3 linked regions of the Homo sapiens genome follow. The protein of the gene in region 1 interacts with the protein of each later gene in a biochemical or structural test. Each region holds a gene or a part of one and is shown in the gene's direction. Other genes may lie near its edges.

What was found.
Region 2: the proteins of PLXND1 (region 1) and SEMA3E interact in a biophysical measurement, tested with the Homo sapiens proteins (one study listed by IntAct).
Region 3: the proteins of PLXND1 (region 1) and SEMA4A form a complex in vitro, tested with the Homo sapiens proteins (2 studies listed by IntAct, with this or other methods).

Annotation. Positions count from the first base shown.
Region 1 is NC_000003.12:129,603,423-129,611,353, reverse strand, and holds the start of PLXND1 (plexin-D1 precursor), read left to right. Parts: upstream 1-4,677; 5' UTR 4,678-4,714; coding exon 4,715-6,025; intron 6,026-7,931. UniProt on the Homo sapiens protein: Cell surface receptor for SEMA4A and for class 3 semaphorins, such as SEMA3A, SEMA3C and SEMA3E. Plays an important role in cell-cell signaling, and in regulating the migration of a wide spectrum of cell types.
Region 2 is NC_000007.14:83,645,968-83,654,211, reverse strand, and holds the start of SEMA3E (semaphorin-3E isoform 1 precursor), read left to right. Parts: upstream 1-5,072; 5' UTR 5,073-5,669; coding exon 5,670-5,784; intron 5,785-8,244. UniProt on the Homo sapiens protein: Plays an important role in signaling via the cell surface receptor PLXND1. Mediates reorganization of the actin cytoskeleton, leading to the retraction of cell projections.
Region 3 is NC_000001.11:156,156,585-156,163,584, forward strand, and holds part of SEMA4A (semaphorin-4A isoform 1 precursor), read left to right. Parts: intron 1-1,485; coding exon 1,486-1,548; intron 1,549-1,803; coding exon 1,804-1,902; intron 1,903-2,117; exon of another isoform or gene 2,118-2,134; coding exon 2,135-2,240; intron 2,241-3,858; coding exon 3,859-3,975; intron 3,976-4,320; coding exon 4,321-4,445; intron 4,446-4,761; coding exon 4,762-4,934; intron 4,935-6,359; coding exon 6,360-6,510; intron 6,511-7,000. UniProt on the Homo sapiens protein: Cell surface receptor for PLXNB1, PLXNB2, PLXNB3 and PLXND1 that plays an important role in cell-cell signaling. Regulates glutamatergic and GABAergic synapse development.

The DNA of each region.
Region 1 (7,931 bases):
ACACACATGCCCCATCCTCACAGCGGCCCACGGAGGCAGATCATGCTCCTCTTTCCAGATACGGAAACTGAGGACCAAGAAGCAGTGGCGCCGCCGTGGTCATGCAGATGGTTAGGGTCAGGCCTCTCAGCCCCAAGCAAGGGGCGCAGGGATGCAGCGGCTGAGAGCAGGGCCTGGACGCCTGGAGGCTGTGCAGCTGCAGGCCAGTGGCACACCACTCTGACCTTAAGTGTCCCCATCTGCAAAAGTGGGTTGATCAAAGGTCCATCAATGATAGACTGGATTAAGAAAATGTGGCACATATACACCATGGAATACTATGCAGCCATAAAAAAGGATGAGTTCATGTCCTTTGTAGGGACATGGATGAAGCTGGAAACCATCATTCTGAGCAAACTATCGCAAGGACAGAAAACCAACACTGCATGTTCTCACTCATAGGTGGGAACTGAACAATGAGAACACTTGGACACAGGATGGGGAATATCACACACTGGGGCCTGTCGTGGGGTGGGGGGAGGGGGAGGGATAGCATTAGGAGATATACCTAATGTAAATGACGAGTTAATAGGTGCGGCACACCAACATGGCACCTGTATACAAACGTAACAAACCTGCACGTTGTGCACATGTACCCTAGAACTTAAAGTATAATTTAAAAAAAAGGGGGGTTGCTAAGACCCCCCCCGCAGGGTTGCTCCCACGGGGAAATGAGACGGGTCCAGCCCCCGAGAAGCAGCAGTGATGGCTCCCGGCACCACCTAGGCCCATGGCTGGATTGCCAAGCCGTCCCTAGGACTCTTGTTTCCAGCACCTTCCTGTGGCTGAGGCGGTGCTCTAAAGCATTAACCTTGCAGGGGCATTTCCTGCAAGGAAACGTTCTCAGAGGCCAGGCCCAAGGGACGGGAGGGCAGGAGCCCCCTCCTCCCAGCGCAACCCTGGCCCCACTGTTATTTTTTCCAATTGAAGAAGAAAAACATTTCCTCTGTCTCCTCACAGCTCTGCCCTGGGCAGTCAGAGGTGAGAATGGACAGGACAGGGTGGGAAGCCCACCCAGTGGGGTGGAAGGCCCAGGCCCGCCTTCTCCGAGCCAGCATAGCCGTTGACCACCGTGCCCCAAGCAAGACTGCCCTGACTCGGCCACCAGGTCCTCGTCTTCAAAGGCACTGCTGGACATTTCCCAAATTTCAGGCATTTTGGTGGCATCTGGATTATCACCTATTTCACATTTGTCTTTAACTCACTTTTAAAGGACTTCAATCAATGCATTTATCAAGGAAGCTTTACATCATTACTGTACATGGAAAACCAGTAGCACTTGCCAAAACCAGAAAGTAACGGCAAGTACAAAGAAAACAAAGCGCTATCAGTACATTCTAGCACGCTGATGTCAACAGCCCTGAGTTTGAGACCTTCTCTCTATTAAAAAGAGACAGTGACAAATGTTACAGTCATTAAAGACATGTTAGCCTCAAACCAAGACCTTTTCCTTGATATAATCAGACTTGAACAAAAACTGAAAAAGGCCCAAATTGCAGTGTGAATAACCAACTAGGTCTGGCTATTCTGGGTTAGTTCATTCCAAGTTAGTTATTGCTGGGTCCCACCTAATCCCCACTCCTGAGTACCTTTCATCTCCCCTTGGTTCCCTCCAAAATTCCCTCTGGAAGAACACCTCATTGCATCTTAGTAAGGCCAGGGAAGGTGTGGTTTGTTCCTTCCTTTATTCATTCATTCAGCCAGTAATTGTCAGCACCTCCTCTGCCCAGCCAGGGGTATAGGGGCTGCCACCATGAGCCATCCTGGCCTGATGGTGCTCCCAGCTAATGGGTAGAAGGGAGAAATCATAAGATGTGGAGCCAGATCTGGGTTTCAATCCTTACCTTGCTAATGCCCCTCAGTTTCCCCATCTGTGAAATGGGTTTGCTGACCACAGCCTAGTCAGCTGGCTGCAAGGATGGTGTAAGATCTGGTAGGGCAGTGCTGGGCACAGGATTCACTCTCACCGTCTGGTGGCTCTGCTAGCCACATTGGGGCTCAGGACAGGAGGTGGAGCCCTGGTCTTTAGTTGCAATGCCCCCCACCCCAACTCCTGGCTCTAACATGGGCTTCAGGGGTCATGGTTCACTGCCACAAGGCGGGGAGAAACTGGTGTTTGCTAAGAGCCTTGTTGTGCTTGACACCTGTTATGTTATATTCTCCATCTCACACCCTCCCAGGGGCAGGTGTTCTGCTACGATTGTCCTCATTTTACAGTTGAGGAAACTGAGGCTCAGAGAGGGTGAGTGCCTTGCACAAGACCACACAGCACTTCTCACCTCCAGTTGATGTGAGGATACTCAGACCCGAATACCCTTCACCTAGAGAGCTCCTAAACCCCACTGCTCAGCTTGGCAGGGAGCTTGTGTCCCAAGTGCCCAGGATCATCACCACAGGCTGGTCTAAGACAACACTGAGCATTATCCTCACGGCTCAGTGGGGGGAGCTGCAGGATGCAGCAAGATGAACCAGATGAGCGGGAGACAGGAAGGAAGAGAGGAGGGGCTGGAGAGGGAGTGGGGGTGAGGGATAGGGAGGGAGACAGAGAGAGAGACAGAGATAGAGACACAGAGAGACAGATGAAGAGTGGAAAGGGAAGGGGGCAAGACACTGAGAGAAGGAGAGACAAAGAGAGTGAACGGGAGGAGCAAGACAGATAGGAACAGAGATGGGTGGGGGCAGGAGAGAGAGAGATAAGACAGAGAGACCAGCGGATGGACTGGGGTGGGGGCACTGAGGATGTGAGTGAGGAGGAGGGGCATGGAGGCAGGCCCCATGCACCCCTGCTGGGCTCTGCAGTTGGCCCCCACGGGTGGCACGATGTGCGCCTTCTCCATCCAGAGAGGAAGACAGGGACACAGTCCCACGGGCAGTCCCCTGAGTGGCTCTTGGTGGGTGGATGGGCCTGGGAGGGGGCCTCCAATTTCCTGCAGCTCAACACTCCCGGCCATCAAAGCAGTGGCCAGACCAGGGCTGAGGGGTCTGGAACAAGGCGGGCAGGATGGCAGGAAGGCGAGGGTGTTGAGGGAAGTGGGGGGCGGCTGCAGGCCCAGCCTTTCCTGCCGGCCCCATGGTGCACAGACACCCCTGCCCTTCCTTCCTGGTTGGGTGGGAAAGAGGAAAATGAGGTCCCGCTACTCTCAGAGTGAGGCCCACCGGGCACCCTGTGGAAGCTGGGGGTCTGATGGGAGGCCCCGTTCTGAGAGGTCGGAGCTGAAGGGCTTTTGCTTTCAAACACTGTAGCTCTGCTCCTCATGAGCTGTGCATCTTGGGCCAGTCCCTTCCCCTCAGCCTTGGTTTCCATATCTGGAAGATGGGTTACCAATAGCGCTCGCCTCGGGGGAATCTGTGAGGAAAAAGAGAGCCCGTACATGGCAAGTGCTTGGCACAGTGTCTGGCACGGGCTAGCCCTGTGTGAGCACCCCCGCAAAACAGCCACGGCGCATGGTCCTCACAGGGCTGTGACCTTGGAACCAGGCTGCCTGCCCCTAACGCTGCTTTTGAGATCAAGAACCCTGCCCAGTGCCGGCTTTTGTGGGACTAATCTTCCACTAAGCCTGGGAGGATGTCAGGGAAAGTGCCTGGCGGGGGTGCCAGGGGTGGGGGTGCGGCTGGGTCTCCACAGGAGGCAACTGTGGGCTCCAGGACCAAGGCCTTGCTCTGGCTATCGGTTGTGGGCCACTGGCTGGAACTATTTCCTCTCTCCATGTTTTCCTCATTTATATATCTGACCCTGAGCACTGGTCCCTCTGGCCCTGCCACTTGTAAATCCCTTTTATGGGTCTGGGGTTTGGGGGACAGATTATGGGGTCTGGGGGGCCCGACTGGCCGGCACCGGGGGAGCGAAGGCCTGGACAGTGCCTGAGAAAGGTGGTGGAGGGAGGCTGAGTGTGGAGGGGAGACACAGGGTTCGGGAAGGCAGAGGGAGAAGGAAAGGGGAGCTCAGAGGGACCGAGAGAGGGACGGAGGGTCCGAGGGGGAGGCAGAGGGAGCCACGGAGAGAGGGAGCGAGCGTCAGGGACGGAAAAACGGAGCAGGAGAGAGAAGGAGACTAGAAAGGGCCGGGGGCGGGGCTGCCAGGGACTGGAGAGCGAAGCGGAGTCGGAGGGAGAAGGAGAAGCAGAGGCAGAACCCGGAGAAGCGCCACACGCGCGGAGTTTGGGGTGGGGACAGAGACGGAGAGACGCAGAGACCGAGAGACGCAGAGAGAGGGAGAGACGGGGTGGGGGAGAGGGCGGAAAAGAGAAAACAGGCGCGAGCGAGGCAGGCCAAGCGGCCAAGTGGGAGGAAAGAGCGAGGAGAGCGAGCGACGGCGGCGGCGGCTACGGGGAGGGACCCTGGGGCCGCGGGCGGGTCCTGGAGGGCGCGGGCGGCGGGACCCGCGGACGGCGGGGCGTGGCCCAGGGCGGCCAGGGGCAGGCGGGGGTCCCGGGGGCGGGCGGGGCCGGGGCGGGGAGTGAGGGCGTGTCCGCAGCGGAGCCGCCCCCGCCCCGCCCCCGGGCTGCGCGGCGAGGCTGACCCGGGCCCGGGCGCCGGGGTCGGGGGCGGCTGGCGCGGGCAGGAAGCGCATCGCGGCCCGGGCCCGCCCCCCGCCTCCCGCCGCCTCCGGGCTCCCGGCTCCCGGCCGCGCCTCGCCCCATGCACTCGCCGCGCCGCGCAGCCCGCGCACGCCCGGATGGCTCCTCGCGCCGCGGGCGGCGCACCCCTTAGCGCCCGGGCCGCCGCCGCCAGCCCCCCGCCGTTCCAGACGCCGCCGCGGTGCCCGGTGCCGCTGCTGTTGCTGCTGCTCCTGGGGGCGGCGCGGGCCGGCGCCCTGGAGATCCAGCGTCGGTTCCCCTCGCCCACGCCCACCAACAACTTCGCCCTGGACGGCGCGGCGGGGACCGTGTACCTGGCGGCCGTCAACCGCCTCTATCAGCTGTCGGGCGCCAACCTGAGCCTGGAGGCCGAGGCGGCCGTGGGCCCGGTGCCCGACAGCCCGCTGTGTCACGCTCCGCAGCTGCCGCAGGCCTCGTGCGAGCACCCGCGGCGCCTCACGGACAACTACAACAAGATCCTGCAGCTGGACCCCGGCCAGGGCCTGGTAGTCGTGTGCGGGTCCATCTACCAGGGCTTCTGCCAGCTGCGGCGCCGGGGCAACATCTCGGCCGTGGCCGTGCGCTTCCCGCCCGCCGCGCCGCCCGCCGAGCCCGTCACGGTGTTCCCCAGCATGCTGAACGTGGCGGCCAACCACCCGAACGCGTCCACCGTGGGGCTAGTTCTGCCTCCCGCCGCGGGCGCGGGGGGCAGCCGCCTGCTCGTGGGCGCCACGTACACCGGTTACGGCAGCTCCTTCTTCCCGCGCAACCGCAGCCTGGAGGACCACCGCTTCGAGAACACGCCCGAGATCGCCATCCGCTCCCTGGACACGCGCGGCGACCTGGCCAAGCTCTTCACCTTCGACCTCAACCCCTCCGACGACAACATCCTCAAGATCAAGCAGGGCGCCAAGGAGCAGCACAAGCTGGGCTTCGTGAGCGCCTTCCTGCACCCGTCCGACCCGCCGCCGGGTGCACAGTCCTACGCGTACCTGGCGCTCAACAGCGAGGCGCGCGCGGGCGACAAGGAGAGCCAGGCGCGGAGCCTGCTGGCGCGCATCTGCCTGCCCCACGGCGCCGGCGGCGACGCCAAGAAGCTCACCGAGTCCTACATCCAGTTGGGCTTGCAGTGCGCGGGCGGCGCGGGCCGCGGCGACCTCTACAGCCGCCTGGTGTCGGTCTTCCCAGCCCGGGAGCGGCTCTTTGCTGTCTTCGAGCGGCCCCAGGGGTCCCCCGCGGCCCGCGCTGCTCCGGCCGCACTCTGCGCCTTCCGCTTCGCCGACGTGCGAGCCGCCATCCGAGCTGCGCGCACCGCCTGCTTCGTGGAACCGGCGCCCGACGTGGTGGCGGTGCTCGACAGCGTGGTGCAGGGCACGGGACCGGCCTGTGAGCGCAAGCTCAACATCCAGGTACACCCGGGCGGTGGCGGCGGCGGCGGCGGCGGCGGCGGCGGGGGCGGGGGCGGGGGCGGGCGGGAACCGAGCGGGTCGTGAGCTGAGTGGGTCACAGGTGGGAGCGCGCAGAGATCCAGATGTACGTGGAACCCAGGTGTGCACGCGAGAATACAGGTGTCCCCCGAGGGGTACTACTGGCGCCTGTATGGCCCAGGTGGGCATGTGCAGGGACTCAAGTGAGTGCCGGCTCATGGGCGCGCATACCTAGGCGTACTGGGAGGGGTCCAAGTTGCCACAGGTACCCAGGTGCGCATAAAGCCCAGGTATGCACGTGAGGGTCACAGGTGCATGCTGAGGGCGCAGTAAGTGACTGCATGCCTGACCAAAGTTGTGTTCTGGGGCCACTGCGTGAGCCTGTCAGAGTTACCATTGCACGTTGGTGATGGGTGCATGGGTGTGGCAGGTGTGCAAGGAGGCACACAGGTGTGCACCAGGGCCCTGCAGATGTCTGCATGGACTTGTGTGCCAGCAAGCTGGGGCCTGAAGACGCACAGGGCAGACAGGTGTACTGCACAGACACTGGTACAACGGGACAGGGCTAGGTGTGCAGTGGGATGTGCGTGGCAGGGGACGCAGGTATTTGGGCATGAGTCGGTACTCTGAGGAGGCTGCATGGTTGGCAAACAGGTGTGTGCCTGAGGCCAACTTTTATTCACCTATTCTGCAAATATTTCCTGAGCACCTAGTATGTACCAGGTGTGGGAGTCTGGGGTAAACAATAGCACTTGTGGAGTGCCAGCTAGGGGCATCACATGTCACAATTCCCAGTTCTCAGAACAACCCTCTCAGGTAGCCTCTATTCTCATCACATTTTACAGATGAAGAAACAGGCACAGAGAGGTTAAGCAACTTGCTGAGGATCACACAGTTGGGCACTAGCAGAGGTGGATTTGAATCCAGCCTGTCTGGCCTCAGCATCTGTGTTTTTAATGCCCAGCCTTTGCTGCCTTCTGGACTTGGATCTCAGAGTGCGTGTGTTTTGGGGGCGTCCCAGGCAGCTGGGGTGGGCAGATGCCAGGGCCAGGAGAATGGAGGGATGTGAACAGGGGTGTTTTGGGGGCAGGAGAGGGCCGTGGGGCTCAGTGGGGAATGAGGAGGAGTACAGGCAGGCATGGGGCCCAGGTGTCTGAGGCTGGGTTGGGCAGTAGCAAGGGGGGCCAGGTTGACGGAATCAGCATGTGTGTTGACATGACAAGGGTGCGGGAGGGGACTTGGTGTGGTTCCCTGAAAGGAAGTTCATGGCAAGGGATTGCTCCTCACACTGGCTTTGGGAGCTGGGTCTGTTGATCCCCATAGTTCACCCTGAGGAATGAGGCCCCAGAATGACACTGGGGCCTTTCCCACACCCTCCACCCATCTGAGTCTGGCGAGCCCACTTCAGCTCCACTGCCTGCCATTCCCTTAGGAAGCTGCATCTCCATCAGCAAAATGCAGAACTCAGCCTTCTTGTGGTGACCCAAGCCTTCCTTGGGGCCCCACCCTGTCCCTTCTCCATGGCTGTGACAAGAATTTCATGAGATTAACCATTCCTCTGTGGGCGGGCCCAACACTGGGGCTTTGAGAAAATGCAGATTCCTTCTCCCAAGGTCGAGGTCGGTCTCCCACGACTGCCCACCATCTGGCCGGCCACCCTGAAAGTAAAGGTCACGGTGGGTGAGCAGGGCAGACAGTCCAAAGGGTGGTGGGGCTGCTTGCCCTGTGCCATGGTTGGTTCATCCACCATCTCCACCCCAGAGCTTCATCTCGCAGGCAACTGTGTTTGGCACTGGGGGTCTCAGTGGGGAGTCGCTGAATGGAGAGAAGTGTCCTGTGGACTGAGGGCCTTCCTCCAGTAGTTTCAGGCCCTGTGTCTCGGCCCTTT
Region 2 (8,244 bases), on another chromosome or scaffold:
TGGATAACTATTATGAAGTCTTTCCTAAATCATATTCTCTTAAAAAAATTGGAATGTTTGGAACATGGACCCTGGTGTCTGGGTTTAAAATGGCGATTATGCTGCTTACTGGTGTTTCTCTTCAGGCAAGTTACTAACTAAGCAGTTAACCAACTAACTAAGTTACTGACATCTGTGTCCTACATTCTGTTTTGTGTAAGTGACAATAAAAATGGTACCTATTGCATCGAGTGATTTTCTAGGTTTAATTGGATTTTATATGAATATGCCTTGCATGCTGCCTAGCATATAGAAAACAAAAAGTTAACAGTAATCATTATTTTTATTCATTTTAAAGTGGAATCAGTTTGGAGTATAGTGCTAGATATTGAGATTAATAGTAACATATTATAACCAATTCACCACTGGTGCCACCAGTAACTCACAAATATGTATAACAAAAGACATAGAAACCCATCAATTATAACATATTATAGAAGTGTTTTTTCAGAATGTCAGATTTTTTTTTTTAATAGAATGTTAGATTTTTTAAAGCAACTGATTGGAGTTCTGTCTCTTTAAGGAATTCTCTATAACCTATAAGGAAGAGTATAGGAAAACCTCCCAGGGCCTGTATATTATAGAATTTTCAGAATTAATCATTTCATTTTGCCATGAAAAGGCATGCAAATCATGACTGCTCTTTGATTAAAGTTCATTAAAGCTTATATTGGCTCCAAATGCTTATTCTGCTTTTCTTTATTATTAAAGACCTAAAAGAAAATGAGAATAAACCTAGTATAATTTGGAAACAAAGAATTTTAAAATTTTATGAGAGCAATTTCATTAAAATTTTATGAGTCTTTTTTGCTTTTTAGAATAGCTGGTCAAAAATGGAAAAATACTAGGCCAACTTATTGGATTGTCAGCCATCCAAATGATAACATCAAAATAACATTAGCCAAACCTCTTTCAGGCGGGTGAATGATTGGTGAATGATTGGATCGTATATGGTACTAATTGATGGAATGCCATTCTCCGGGACTACGCTTAGCAGCATACAAATCAGGAGTGATGTAGTTATCTGTCCTTATCTGCCTGAATCACTGAATGTGGGAAACAGTCAATCCAGACTCTAGATCCTTTACAAATTCTGTGATATAAGGCATCTGAATAGAATGACCAATAAAAGCATTAGCAGTCCTGAACTGTAAAACCCGGAAGCAGCAATGGCGGCAGCAGCAGCAACAGCAGGTCTTATTGGTGGGACATTTGAGGTGCTCCAGACTGGAGGTCATTGGGATAGCAGGGCTAGCAGGAATAGAAGAGAGATTAGTGAAGCTGAAATGCCATAACTACCACAGAGAAGTTATGTTATCTAAGTATTTTAAGCCCTTATATATTTATAAAATTTATGTATTTCTGTGTTTAGTTATAAAAAGGGTAATTATTATTGCTATTTTGATAGTTTGGTTTTTTTTAATGCTTTTAATCATAATGTTCTTCAGATGTAGTACTGTGTAATGTTGTCCACCTATAAATAATGTATATGTCATCATTTTTGTGTAAATGTTCAACTGGAAAAGCTAAAGGCATATTCCACCCCATTCTACAAGTGGCACAGGGAATTACTTTACCTCTTACTTGGCCCTCAAGTATCCACATCTCTGCCTGTCTGTATGAATAACTTCTGCTGAAGTAAGTTTTAGTGGCACATAGAATGGAATACACCGTAATACCCCATCAGCAACTTGTTAATGCTCTAAGTTTGTCCAAAAGCATGTTCCCTGAAGCACAGTAGGTACAGTGTGTGCATTTAGTCAGGAGAGGCTACGCTCTGCTGTGGTAACAAATAAACTAAGTAGCTTAACATAACATGTTTCCTCCCATTCATACAAAGTCTCTTGTGAGTCTGAGTAACTTTCTAGGGTAGCTGTCTCCAGTGGTGATTCAGTAATGTAAGATGATTCAATTTCATCCTGCCACCATTTCAAGGTAAGTTCTCCTCTTTTGCCACAGAAAGGGCTTCAGAAAGACCAAATGATTTCTTAGGAATATTTCACTGCCTCAGCCCAGATGTGATACATATCACTTCTGCTCATATTTCCTTGGCTAGAATTAGTCAAGTGAATTCACATGACTGCCAAGGAGCTGGAAAGTATAGTCTCCCATATACCCAGGAATGAATATTGATGATACGATATTGAAGGAATATTGATAGGTACTGTCTCCCACAGTATGCAAGATAATTTTAAGTCATGTAGAAACAAACTTTTACGACTGTTTGGTTTTTGCATGTATTTGAAAAATACAAGTAGGACATGAAGCCTATGAGGTAATGGTTTCATTTTATATTAATTTAAGTTTAATTGCAGATACTATGTGTTATACTAAAAATGGTGAATGTGGTAAACAGATGCCTAATGTTTTGGTAACACTGCCCTAAAGGAACATCTGTCAAACACAAATCTTAGAACGTAAAATTTCAGGCAAACTGGGAACATGAGGTGGGGCATAGCAAGCTGTTCTTCAACAAGTACCTGAGGTTGATTCAACAGCAGATAGTATGGGATTGCCTCCTGGGAGGGCTTGTTGTAGAAGCTAGTTGATTTTCTGCTGTTGAAATTGGAGAACCAGTGATGGAACCCATCATGGGGGAGACTGCAGCTCCTGATGAGTACCCAATTTTCTTTTTTTATTTTTCTCCTTTTTCTACCAGACTGAGATTGCTCTTCATACAATGATGTAAGACTAGCAAGAATGAGAGATTTTGGAATAAAACCCTTGACCTGGCAATCAATTCCTTTCTAATTGGCATTTATCTTCTCCCCTGGTTTTCCTTGTTGTCTGATATTGTTCAAACTGCTAGCCTGGATCCTCTCAAATCAAATACAGTAACATCACCTGATATTGTTGGTAACTCCAAAGTTTTTCAGTCCACTAAAGCTCTTCCCTTACTGTTGGTGGTGAGTCAGTTGTTGTTATTGTTTTTAATTTTCTATTTCCATGTTTCCCAAGAGTATCTAGAAATGGCTCCCAAGGATTCAGATTTTGATGTTGTGATTTGTCTATAGTATTATTGATTTGTGTGTAATTATGAATAGAAGCCTCTTTTATTCTCAAAAAAAGTCTTGTTTAGATGATGAGCTATTTGATGACTCTACTTCTGAGGATTCTTCTTGTTTTATTTTATGATGTAAGTGACTAATTTGGTCCCAAAGACTCTTTATTCCATTGCTAATGCCACATAGGGGAAACTGAGACTATAGATAGTTTTCTTAACAGTCATTTTTTGGCATCATCTATATATTTTCTATAGGATAAAGATAAAGGTAAAAGGACATAAAGAGTAGTTAAAAGAAATAAGTAAGGACATTGACAACTGGCAGATAAGCCAAAGCACATTTTGAGGAATCTAAACAACCCATTATTCTGGCATTTACTTCTAAATTGCTCCAACTTAATCTGAAGGATGAGATGTAAAACCAAAGACAGATCTTGGCATTCATAACATATATTCTCTTGTCAACACTTTAGAGGTGCATATTTTGTGTACTAATGAAATGATTGTAATGTCTCACATTGTCTCAGTTCTATAGTAGAGTTAGGACAGGCACTATGCAATCTTAAGTAGAATTTCAGCTATGTGAGAGTAGCCATGAATTTGCAATAAAAGGTGTAGGCACCACATTTACTTTTCCTATAATCCTACTATTAGATAACACATATAAGAGCTGCTATTTATTTTGTCATTTGTTTCCATCCTAGAAGAAAGCAAAAGAGAATTTTGAAGGTACAATGTATCACATTTAGAGCAACCTTTAGGTCTGTAGCTCATCAGACTGGCTTTTAAAATATGCAAGCATTCCAGGTTAAAAGTCTCTAAATAACTTCATGTCATTTTACTGTTAAATAATGTTTAGAGTTTGCTATCTTTTGTAGACCTTGGAAATCTAATTATTTATAATGTCCAGTGACATTTACATTTTGCTAAATATACTCTGCTTGTACAAGAACATCTCATGATTAGAAAAATGGGTAGAGAATGCCTGGCTGTACATATGCTTCTATATAATGCAAAAATATCAGGGTGACACATGTTATCTTTTTGTTATAGTTTCGTGATTTTAAAACATAATTCTCAAAAAGTTTTTAACTATTAGCATTTAAAATACAGAATAAGAAAAAGTTATCATAGTTGAGATCAGTGTTTACCATTTAACTCTCCACTATCAAATCAAATATCTATTCAAGTTTATTGGTATCTTAACATAATACCATTCATTTCCATGCCAACAGCTCCTGAGTGTTTGGCTTAGTTTTTGAGATTGATTGAAGGTAGATTGTAAAGTTGACCTATTGTGTTAAGCTTATTTACACAAACACAGTGCCTTGGAAAATCAACTCTGGAAGTCCATAGCAGTTGAATCCTAAGGTATTGCACATCCTAAGTTTTCTAATACCTGCTTTATAGAAATCCCTTGGGTGGTGAATCTCAACTTTGCCAGTTACCTTACCTGGGGGAAATTACTTCAACATTCCTAAATTTGAAGTAAAATTTAGGAATTGCTTTAGGACAAAGGATTTGCCTTTAATTTCATTTGACCAATTTGCTTAAGTAAATAATTTATCATTTCTATCAAATTTATGAGACAGTCACAGATGAACTTTTTTTTTTCAGGCTCTTGAAACACACTTTTCTTAAAAGAGTTTAAAAATAACATCCCTAAGATATAAGCAATAGAAAAAGACTTAATTTTGAAAAAAACCTTATGGCAACAGTGAAAAACAGAATTTGGATTCTGGATGGTTACAAATAGATTATTTTCAAAAGAAGTTGGATTTATTCAACTTAGGTCAATTTATCTTGGTAAGAATTTAAAAGCGCTTTCTGATGCCACATCCTTGTCTGTCACCTATTCTTAAATAATCAGTCTATGTCATCACCCCTCCCGAACTCCCCATTTCCCCCATCAAAATGTGGACTTCTCTCCTGCTGCTGAGTAACGTGGGGCTGGTTATGACTGGGAGGGAGGATGGGAGCGAGGCACGTGGACCAGAAATACTTCCTAGAAACAGCAAGTACGCTGCTCAACCCTGCCTGAACTTTCCTGTAAACAGCCACTGACAGACTGCATCCCTGCTGGGTGGATCCTGCGACTCCTAGAGGGAATGGCACTTCTTGTTTTTAATTAGCAAGGTGAAAGGTGAATTAAAACTAGCAGTTTGGCAAGTCAGTGCAAGAGGCTGACTTCTGAGAGGCTTCCAGGAGCCCGAAGAGAGGACCTCCACGGGAGAAGGGAGTGCGTGTGCTCGGTTTTGTTTTTTTCTCTCTTTTTTTTTTTTTTTTCTGAATGAACAGCTTTGCCCAAGTGACTGAAAAATACAGCTTCTTCCTGAATCTACCGGCGTAGTTGCTGAAGAGCGCTCTAGACAGGACATGGCTCTGAAGACTCACTCTTTGGAATGTCCTCTTGCTCCCGGCTTATAAACAACTGTCCCGAGGAAAGAAAGGTTTTACATAGCCAAATACAGCCTGACAAATGGCACTTCGGAACTGTGCTTTCTGATGACAACGCGTTCGATTTCTGACAAAGCCTCTCGCACGCTGCCCCTGGAGGGAAGTCCTAAGTAAAACTCAGACCCTCCTTAAAGTGAGGAGCGAGGGCTTGGACGGTGAACACGGCAGCATGGCATCCGCGGGGCACATTATCACCTTGCTCCTGTGGGGTTACTTACTGGAGCTTTGGACAGGAGGTCATACAGCTGATACTACCCACCCCCGGTTACGCCTGTCACATAAAGGTAGGTTACCTTTCCAGATCCTTTTGTTTAAAAAAAAAAAAAAAGAAAAAGAAAAAAGAAAAAAAAAGTCGTTTAACATTAACATAGGCTTATGGTCTTCAAAGACCTTTAAAATGCACCTGAAAAATTTATTGCAAAACTGACCTAAAATTCTAAGTACCTCTGATTAATGTGTCATACTCACCTCATCTGAAAACAGTGCAAAATCACATGTCAACTTAGAGATGTTATTTTTGTCTGTAAACATTGGATTTTATCAATAAGGAGTTCACTCACTAGCCCGCGGAACACAGGAAGGGAGGAAGCAGGTTGAAAATAGCCTTGAGAGGCTGAATCCACCAAGTTAACAGTAGATATTTAAATATCAGTTTATGCATATGAGAAACAAGGATGCTGGGAAAGGGCTATAGAAATAGGGGTGCAATTTGTTCTTTTTGTTTTTGTTTTGTTTTGTTTCCATAATGGAGGTAAGAGGAGAAAATAAAAATCCCGAGGAGAAAAATGATGCCCTACCCATAACTGTCATCATCATGTAATTAAAATGATTAACAACTAATATAAATTAGTTTTCCAGTTGAATTGATTATTAGAATTTTTTCATGTGTGGCAAAGGAAAATAGTTTATGACAATGCTTGTAAAATGGCTAATATGGATTAAAGTATTAGTATTCACTAGCATTTGTAGTGTAAATTTATATTGCCTTAATGAAGATCTAACAGCAAATGTTTAAATATTTCATTCTACAATTGTCTTGTAAAGCAACATCATACTCATAAATAAATGATTAAAAGATAGATTTTGCATCAGGACCAATACAAGCCAGTCATGAATAGGTTTGGTAATTCCTCCTGTAAACAAACAAATAATAAACAAAACCATGCTCAGAGAAAGTGACTTTGCTGACTTAATATAAATTCGGAATAAATTGTCAGCAAAGAAGTATTTATTATCACTAGCCATTGACACATTGAGACAGATAGCAGATGTAATACTCAGGATTACATAAGAATCATTTTTCAATTGTGTAAGCTTTTAAATTGTCCCCCACTGTAGAAAGAACAGAAGCTTGTATTTTCTAAGTACAGGTAGAATATTTATCAGGAGAAACAAAAAGGGAGTCCTCAATTTTATGTGACACGTTTGGCCTTTTTGTCTTTTTATTGGACAATCTTCAGTAAATGTTGACTATAGAAATTTTTTCATTTTTAGAATAGTGGATGTTTTCTTAGTTTAAATAGATTTCCTATAATACTATCCAGTAGATAATATAAATTTAAGAAATCCATTGATACTAAATTGGTAAAGTGTTTAAAATATAGTGCCCAGAATTAACACTAATCTTTTAACTTGGGAAGATGTATCATGGTATGTATCAAAATGCCTATTTCTAAGAAGTTTATCATCAAAGATGTCAACATGTACAAATTTGATGTGATGGAATATGGACAAATAAAAATGCAAAAAAATATAATTGATTGTTTTTCTTATGTAGACAAGTAGATAAGCTGCCAGTTTTTGCAAGCTACAATTCTGTTATATCTAGTATTAACATTTTATACCCTATTATTGGGGTACTTGTGTTTTCATGGTTCAATATCAGTGTGTTTTCCAACAGGTCACATTTTAATATTTCATAAGAGAGTTAATAATTTGATCAAAAAATACCAAAGTTCTCTGATACAAGTAAATGTTATGCATAATACTATTATCGAGTTCATCTTTATTATGTCACTTATATTCAAAGAAATAATTGTAACTGATGTTATGAGTGGTGTCATATGGTGTGAGAGTAAAACCGCTAGTATCTATATGTACAATAGACTGAAAACTCCCACAGGATTTCCCTTAACTTTGAATTTAATGGAACCAGCTGAAAATGCACAATATGATGTTTTTATACAAAGGCAGAATAGAGAGAGTTACCTGAAAATAGAATGTTCCTACTTGTGCAATTTAGTTAGTAAAGTCAGTTAAGAGATCACACTGGAGATGCTACCTGAAGCAGCAAATGCCTACTGCACCTCAGGGGCCTCAGTGAAAAGAAGAGCATATATACTGTCAGAGGAGGGATATTCAGTCCCACCAATACAATATGAACAGCCCATTTATCTCTCTAGACTCTGGAATTCAGTGAATATTTTAGAAGTCTTCAAAAACTAGGAATAAGATATTACAGATTAATCTTTTGCTGACTTGACTAATGTCAGTAACGACAAGTGTTCAGTAGCGAGTGAATTAAGTAATTAATATTTAAATGAGTATATAATCTTTCAATATAAGAGGCACTAGGTATATGTCATATAGCATCTCTGTACCGCTGCCTGACCACTAGCAAGGAAATCCAGGAGGCTCCCTGGAGATAGCCTACTAGAATAATTCAGAAATTCTTTTCACAGTTAATGATCTAAGCTGTATGGGAGAAAGGCAGGCATTTTTCTCATATTCTTCACTTTTAAGAT
Region 3 (7,000 bases), on another chromosome or scaffold:
CAGGGATAAAGAGTGTGGGCTGGGAGTGAAGAGGGGGCCGGCAGCTACCCTGGGCTTGGCTGCCTGTGCATGAATAACTTAGTTGCTGTTATCTGTAATCAGCAGTTCTCTTTATATGTATATCGTGACAATATAACAGACAGGAAATGTCGTGGCCTCACTTTTTTTTTTTTTTTTGAGATGGAGTCTTGCTCCGTTGCCCAGGCTGGAGTACAGTGGCACGATCTTGGCTCACTGCAACCTCCGCCTCCCAGGTTCAAGCAATTCTCCTGCCTCAGCCTCCCAAGTAGCTGGCACTAGCATGCACCACCATGCCAGGCTAATTTTAATAGAGACGAGATTTTACCATGTTGGCCAGGCTGGTCTCAAACTCCTGACCTCAGGTGATCCGCCTGCCTCAGCCTCCCAAAGAGTTGGGATTACAGGCGTGAGCCACCGCACCCGGCCTGTGACTTCACTCTTCACTGGTATTGTGAATAGTGATTGAATAATATTAATTGCAAAAATGGCTGATATGGAAATCATTGACATATGAGATAAACACTGACTCAAATTATATCAATAATTTGATATCTACCCACTAGTAGAAATCACTGATGCTTCTGTGTCTTTTTTTTTTTGAGATGGAGTCTCACTCTGTTGTCCAGGCTGGAGTGCAATGGCGTGATCTTGGCTCACTGTAACCTCTGCCTCCTGGGTTCAAGCAATTCTGCCTCAGTCTCCTGAGTAGCTGGGATTACAGGCGCCCGCCACTAGGCATGGCTGATTTTTCTGTTTTTAGTAGAGACGGGGTTTCACCATGTTGGTCAGCCTGGTCTCGAACTCCCGACCTCAGGTGATCCATCCGCCTCAGGCTTTCTAAGTGCTGGGATTACAGGTGTGAGCCACTGTGCCTGGCTGCTTCTGTCTTAGTCGCCCTATTAATGGGAACAATGTGAGGAAGGAAGGAAGAAAGGGAGAGAAGGCACTAGCAATATTAGCAATCACCTCCATGGTTCATGTATCCTGATGTGTAGTCTGCTGACCACCTGCACATATGAGATGCTGGTTAAAAATGCAGATTCTCTAAGGCGTGACCCAGGAACCAACTTGTTAAACAATTTCCCCAGGAAATGTGCGGTTTGACAACTGCTGCCATATATACCATTCATCGTGTTAGGTGTTTTGTATATGCCACCTGGTTGTATCTGCCAGTAGCCTATGAAATTGACCAAGATCTCTCAGTCAGGAAATAGCCAAGTCTAGATTTAAACTTGGGTCTGTCTGATTCCTTAGGCTGTGTTCAACTATGGAGCTATGTCTGATACCAGTATTATTCAAGTAATAGCCATGGTCACAAACTGATGTTATTACTGCCCATCAGCATGTCACTAACCACCATGTCTGCTGGTTATTTCACATCAGAGCAGAGAAGGGAGGCAGGTCACAGCTAGAACTGAGGACCTTATTTCTTTTCATCTCGCCCTCCCAACTCCCCACTTTCAGATACCGTGGCCAGCCAGTGACAGAAAAAAGAGTGAATGTGCCTTTAAGAAGAAGAGCAATGAGGTAAGTGGAGGTGGGGGAGTAGGGGTAGAGTGGGTAGAGAGCTCTGGCATCCCTAGACCATCCCTGGATGACCTCAGGTTGGGCGGCAGTGGAGGGCACTTGTTTGCACGGTTATCTCCTGGATTATGTTCTACAGAGGCGTACAGGGACTGCCCCAGCATTACCTAGCCTTTCTCCTCAGTGAGGGGGCAGCCTCTGGGGGTCCAGCAATTTGAGTCAGGTGGCCTGGAGACCTAAATTCTCTGTCTCCCTCAGACACAGTGTTTCAACTTCATCCGTGTCCTGGTTTCTTACAATGTCACCCATCTCTACACCTGCGGCACCTTCGCCTTCAGCCCTGCTTGTACCTTCATTGTGAGTTCTCTGGTGCCCAGCGCTCAGGCCCCCAAGCATCCCTTCTCACATCTACCCACGACTTTCCTCTGTAGCTCTGGAAAACTCTGGCCTTCCAGATGCAGGACCCTCATGAACTTCCTGGCCCCAGACCAATTTCCCTCTATGTCCCTTTCCCTTCCTTCCTCAAGCCCCTCATTTCCCAGATGTGAGACCTTGGCGTTCTGGCCCCCCAGCCTCTCTCCCCATTTAGGAACTTCAAGATTCCTACCTGTTGCCCATCTCGGAGGACAAGGTCATGGAGGGAAAAGGCCAAAGCCCCTTTGACCCCGCTCACAAGCATACGGCTGTCTTGGTGGGTGAGTATCAGGTTTCCCACTTCATCCCAACATCTACTTTCTCCAGTCACGCTGTGAAATATGGAATATTACAGAGTTTTCCAAAAGGCAGGGGAAACTGGGTGTGGTGATGCGTGCATATGGTCCCAGTTATTTGGAAGCTGAAGTTGAAGGATGCTTGAGTTTAGGGGTTTGAGTCTAGCCTGGGCAACACAGCGAGATCGTCTCAAAAAAAAAAAAAAAAAGCCTCAGTGCCTCATGCCTGTAATCCTAGCAGTCTAGCAGTTTGGGAGGCTGAGGTGGGTGGATCATGTGACCCCAGGAGTCTGAGACCAGCCTGGTAAACATGGTGAAACCCCATCTCTACTAAAAATACAAAAATTATCCAGGCGTGGTAGGGCGCACCTATGGTCCCAGCTACTCGGGAGGCTGAGTCACAAGAATTGCTTGAACCCAGGAGGTGGAGGTTGCAGTGAGCCAAGATCGCGCCACTGCACTCCAGCCTGCGCAACAAAGCAAGACTCTGTCTCAAAACAAAACAAAACAGAAAATGCAGAGGACAGAGAGAGAGAGGGAAGCCAGAAGCCTCAGAACACAAGATCAGAGGGAGAATTAAGCACCCCAACCACCAGCTCCTGCTGAAATTGCCACAAAAAGTGGTGGAGAAAGATGCATGTGGAGAGACAGAGGCACGAGGGCCCGGGAAGGGTATTGGGTAGAGAAGAGGCCTGAGACTGAGCCACTGTTCAACAATTGTGTGAACACTTCCTCTGGTGTACTGGGCACTGTGCTGGGTAGTATAGGAGTTATAAACAAGAAATCAGGCTGGGTGCAGTGGCTCACACCTGAAATCTCAGCACTTTAGGAGGCTGAGGCGGGTGGATCACTTGAGCCCAGGAGTTTGAGACCAGCTTGGGCAATAGTATAGTGAGACCTCGTCTCTACTAAAAACAAAACAAAACAAAAACAACAACAACAAAATTAGCCGGACAAGCGCCTGTGATCCCAGCTACTTGGGAGGCTGAGGTGGGAGGATCGCTTGAGATGGTCAAGGCTACGGTGAGTTGTGATGGCACCACTGCACTCCAGCCTGGATGTGAGCAAGACCCTGTCTTGAAAAAAAAAAAAAAAAAAAGGGAGAGAGAAACCATGTATCAATGCACTACTGGACACCAACCATTACAGACTTCCCACCTGCCTTCCTGGAGGAGATGGCCTTCGGCTTTTCAGCAGGACCTTGAAAAGATAGGTAGACAGATGGCAGGGAAGGTGTTCCAGGGAGAGAAGGGTAGGACCCAAGGTGTGGAAGTGGAAAACACAGTCACCTTCCAGGATCAGTAAGTGATTCTACTTGGCAAGTGGTTCAGCTAGGTATGTGACGAAGTAGCCACAGAAAGGCTGGAAAAGTGCCCAAACACGGAGGGCCACACAGGATGGCCATTTCCTGTGGAGAGAGGAAGCTAAGAGGGGTGCTTAGTGAGGAGGGGGAGCTGGCCTTTGAGGCTCCCCAGGAAGGTGCAGAACTGATGCAGGGCCCCCGAGACTGATATGGATGCCAGCCCCAGTCAGAGGCAGGTCTGTGGAGGGCAGAGGAACCCTCCACCCCATCAGTTCTCTCTTCTCCTCTCCTCCACCCTAGATGGGATGCTCTATTCTGGTACTATGAACAACTTCCTGGGCAGTGAGCCCATCCTGATGCGCACACTGGGATCCCAGCCTGTCCTCAAGACCGACAACTTCCTCCGCTGGCTGCATCGTAAGGACCTGACCCCCGCTGGCCTCCTTTCCTGAGTCCTGGTGACCTTGCTAATTCACTCAACTTTCATTTGCGGAAGGTACAATGTGTCCATTACTGTTAGGCGCAGGGGGTATATGGCAGGGAAGAAGGCAAAGCTCCGGTTCTCTTGAAGCTTTCGTCTTATGTAAACACATTAAAGAAGTACCAGTCATCCCCACCCCACATCGCTACCCCTCGACAAGCTGTGGGACCCGAGGAAGCCTGTGTGTCCTGGCCTCCAGGGCCAAACCAACGGTTTTCACTCAGGCAAACCCAGGGCATGCAGGGGCTCAGTCCCTAAGCCCATCTGCCCCTCCCCCGCAGATGACGCCTCCTTTGTGGCAGCCATCCCTTCGACCCAGGTCGTCTACTTCTTCTTCGAGGAGACAGCCAGCGAGTTTGACTTCTTTGAGAGGCTCCACACATCGCGGGTGGCTAGAGTCTGCAAGGTCCGCGGCCTGGGCGGGGGGCGGGGCTAACTGGAGGAGAACCAATAGGGAGATGGCAGGGGCAGGACTGAGTGGTGGGCCCCCAGTGAGAGCGGGGGAGCGGGGCGGGGAACAAGCGGGCCTGGCGGGGTGGGGCGGGGGACAGCGGGGCTGGGCGGGTGGGGCGGGGGACAAGCGTGGCTGAGGGGGCGGGGTGGGGACACGCGGGGCTGGCGGGGACTGGGGGGACACGCCGAGCTGCGGGGGGCGGGGAGGACACGCGGGGCTGGGGGGTCGGGGCGCCCGGGGCGCCCCCTGACTCCCCCTGTGCCCCCAGAATGACGTGGGCGGCGAAAAGCTGCTGCAGAAGAAGTGGACCACCTTCCTGAAGGCCCAGCTGCTCTGCACCCAGCCGGGGCAGCTGCCCTTCAACGTCATCCGCCACGCGGTCCTGCTCCCCGCCGATTCTCCCACAGCTCCCCACATCTACGCAGTCTTCACCTCCCAGTGGTGAGCAGCAGGGCTGGACCATGGGGGCTGGACACGGGACTTGACGCCAGTGAGGCCCCAGCTCGTGAGCGGAGGCAGGAATTGACATGAGCCAGCACCTACTCAGCACTTTCACATAGGAAGGCATTAAATCGTCACCACCTCTCAGGAATTTGACTCATGCCCTTTTTGTAAATGGGAAAAATAAGACGCAGAGAGGTTCTAACTAGTTTATATTCTGCCTAGTTCCAAAAGGGATAGGAAGCATTTTACAAAAGGCAAATATTAAAATCGATAAAATAGATACAGAAATGGGAATAAAAGGAGAATATGAGAAGCCAAGGGTAAGGCCAACACACTACAAATGCTTGTCATAAGATGTAGGATAGTCCCTGGATGCCAGCCACAAATTTAGCTCTGCATTTCCTAATGGCCAGGGCAAACAGGGAAACGCTATCCGTATCAGAAGATAAAAATAAAGTCGGCCGGGTGCGGTGGCTCATGCCTGTAATCCCAGCACTTTGGGAGGCCGAGGTGGGCAGATCACGAGGTCAGGAGATCAAGACCATCCTGGCCAATATGGTGAAACCCCGTCTCTACTAAAAACACAAAAATTAGCTAGGTGTGGTGGCGCATGCCTGTAGTCCCAGCTACTCGTGAGCCTGGGGCAGGAGGATCCCATGAACCCGGGAGGCGGAGGTTGCAGTGAGCCAAGATCGCACCACTGCACGCCAGCCTGGCAACACAGTGAGACTCCGTCTCAAAAAAAATAAATAAAAATAAAGTCATTGCTTGAAGGTTGAGAAAGGTTAACCAATTTGTCCAAGGTCCCCGAGTCATGGTCTGGCCCCACAGTGTTTAGGTACCTGCTGACAATGTGTCAGGTACCAAAGGTATTTGGGGTAAGTGGGATCTGGTATCCACAGGATCCAGAATTGAGAGCCTGGTGTATACAGTAGTCAGCTTCAAGAGAGCAGAGAAACAGACCTCCTGTCTCCACAGACCAGGGTTGAGGAATAATAACAGTCTGGTAGTCAGGCACTGGTCGGTTCTCTGAGGACCAGGGATCCAAGAGACTCAAAGGAAGAGGGGTTTGTGTGGAGCCAGGCTAGAGCTGGTTACACTGTCCCTCCAATGGGTGCAGCCCAGTGTAGGCAGGACAGGCAGGGGCCACCCCAGGGCCTGAGCCCCAATTAATTCTCATTAAGGATAATCAGACTTCAGATCCCAAGATGGGCCTAGAGCCAGGCCCTGGGCCAGAGTCAGGGAATTCCATGGGGCTCCCTTGGCCCTTATCAACACAGTGAGGGGAAGGAGTGGTAGCTGGAGGCTGGCCCAGCTCTCCACACTCTTGCCTCCTGGGTTTTCTCACTGAGGGCCAGCGCTGGAGAGAGAGCTGCTGGTGTGGCAGAGACCACAGACAATGTTCCCTCTGGCTGTCTCCAGGCAGGTTGGCGGGACCAGGAGCTCTGCGGTTTGTGCCTTCTCTCTCTTGGACATTGAACGTGTCTTTAAGGGGAAATACAAAGAGTTGAACAAAGAAACTTCACGCTGGACTACTTATAGGGGCCCTGAGACCAACCCCCGGCCAGGCAGTGTGAGTACTACCCCCCACACTGAGCACAGTCTACACATACATAATGTGCATGAAAAAACACCTATCATGGCATAGTAAATGCCCAATAAATGTTAGTGCTCTCCACCCCACCAATCTCGCCTGCTCAGACGTACACCTGGTATAGCTGCCTATATTCCACATGTGCCTAGCACCCTTTTATACACGGAGCAGTTGCTGGAGCCATCTCCCTTCACCAAGGCTAAGTGTACACCAAATATCTGGGTATATCACTATGGAAACAAGGGAACATGCGCTGTGTGCCAAGGACTGTCTTGGGCATTGCCACCTGCATTTATTTAACTTTTTAAAAAAATCAGAGGCCAGGGCCGGGTGTGGTGGCTCACACCTGTAATCCCAACACTTGGGGAGGCCGAGGCAGGTGGATCACTTGAGGTCAGGAGTTTGAGAACAGCCTGGCTAACATGGTGAAACCTCATCTCTACTAAAAATACAAAAATTAGCCAGGCAT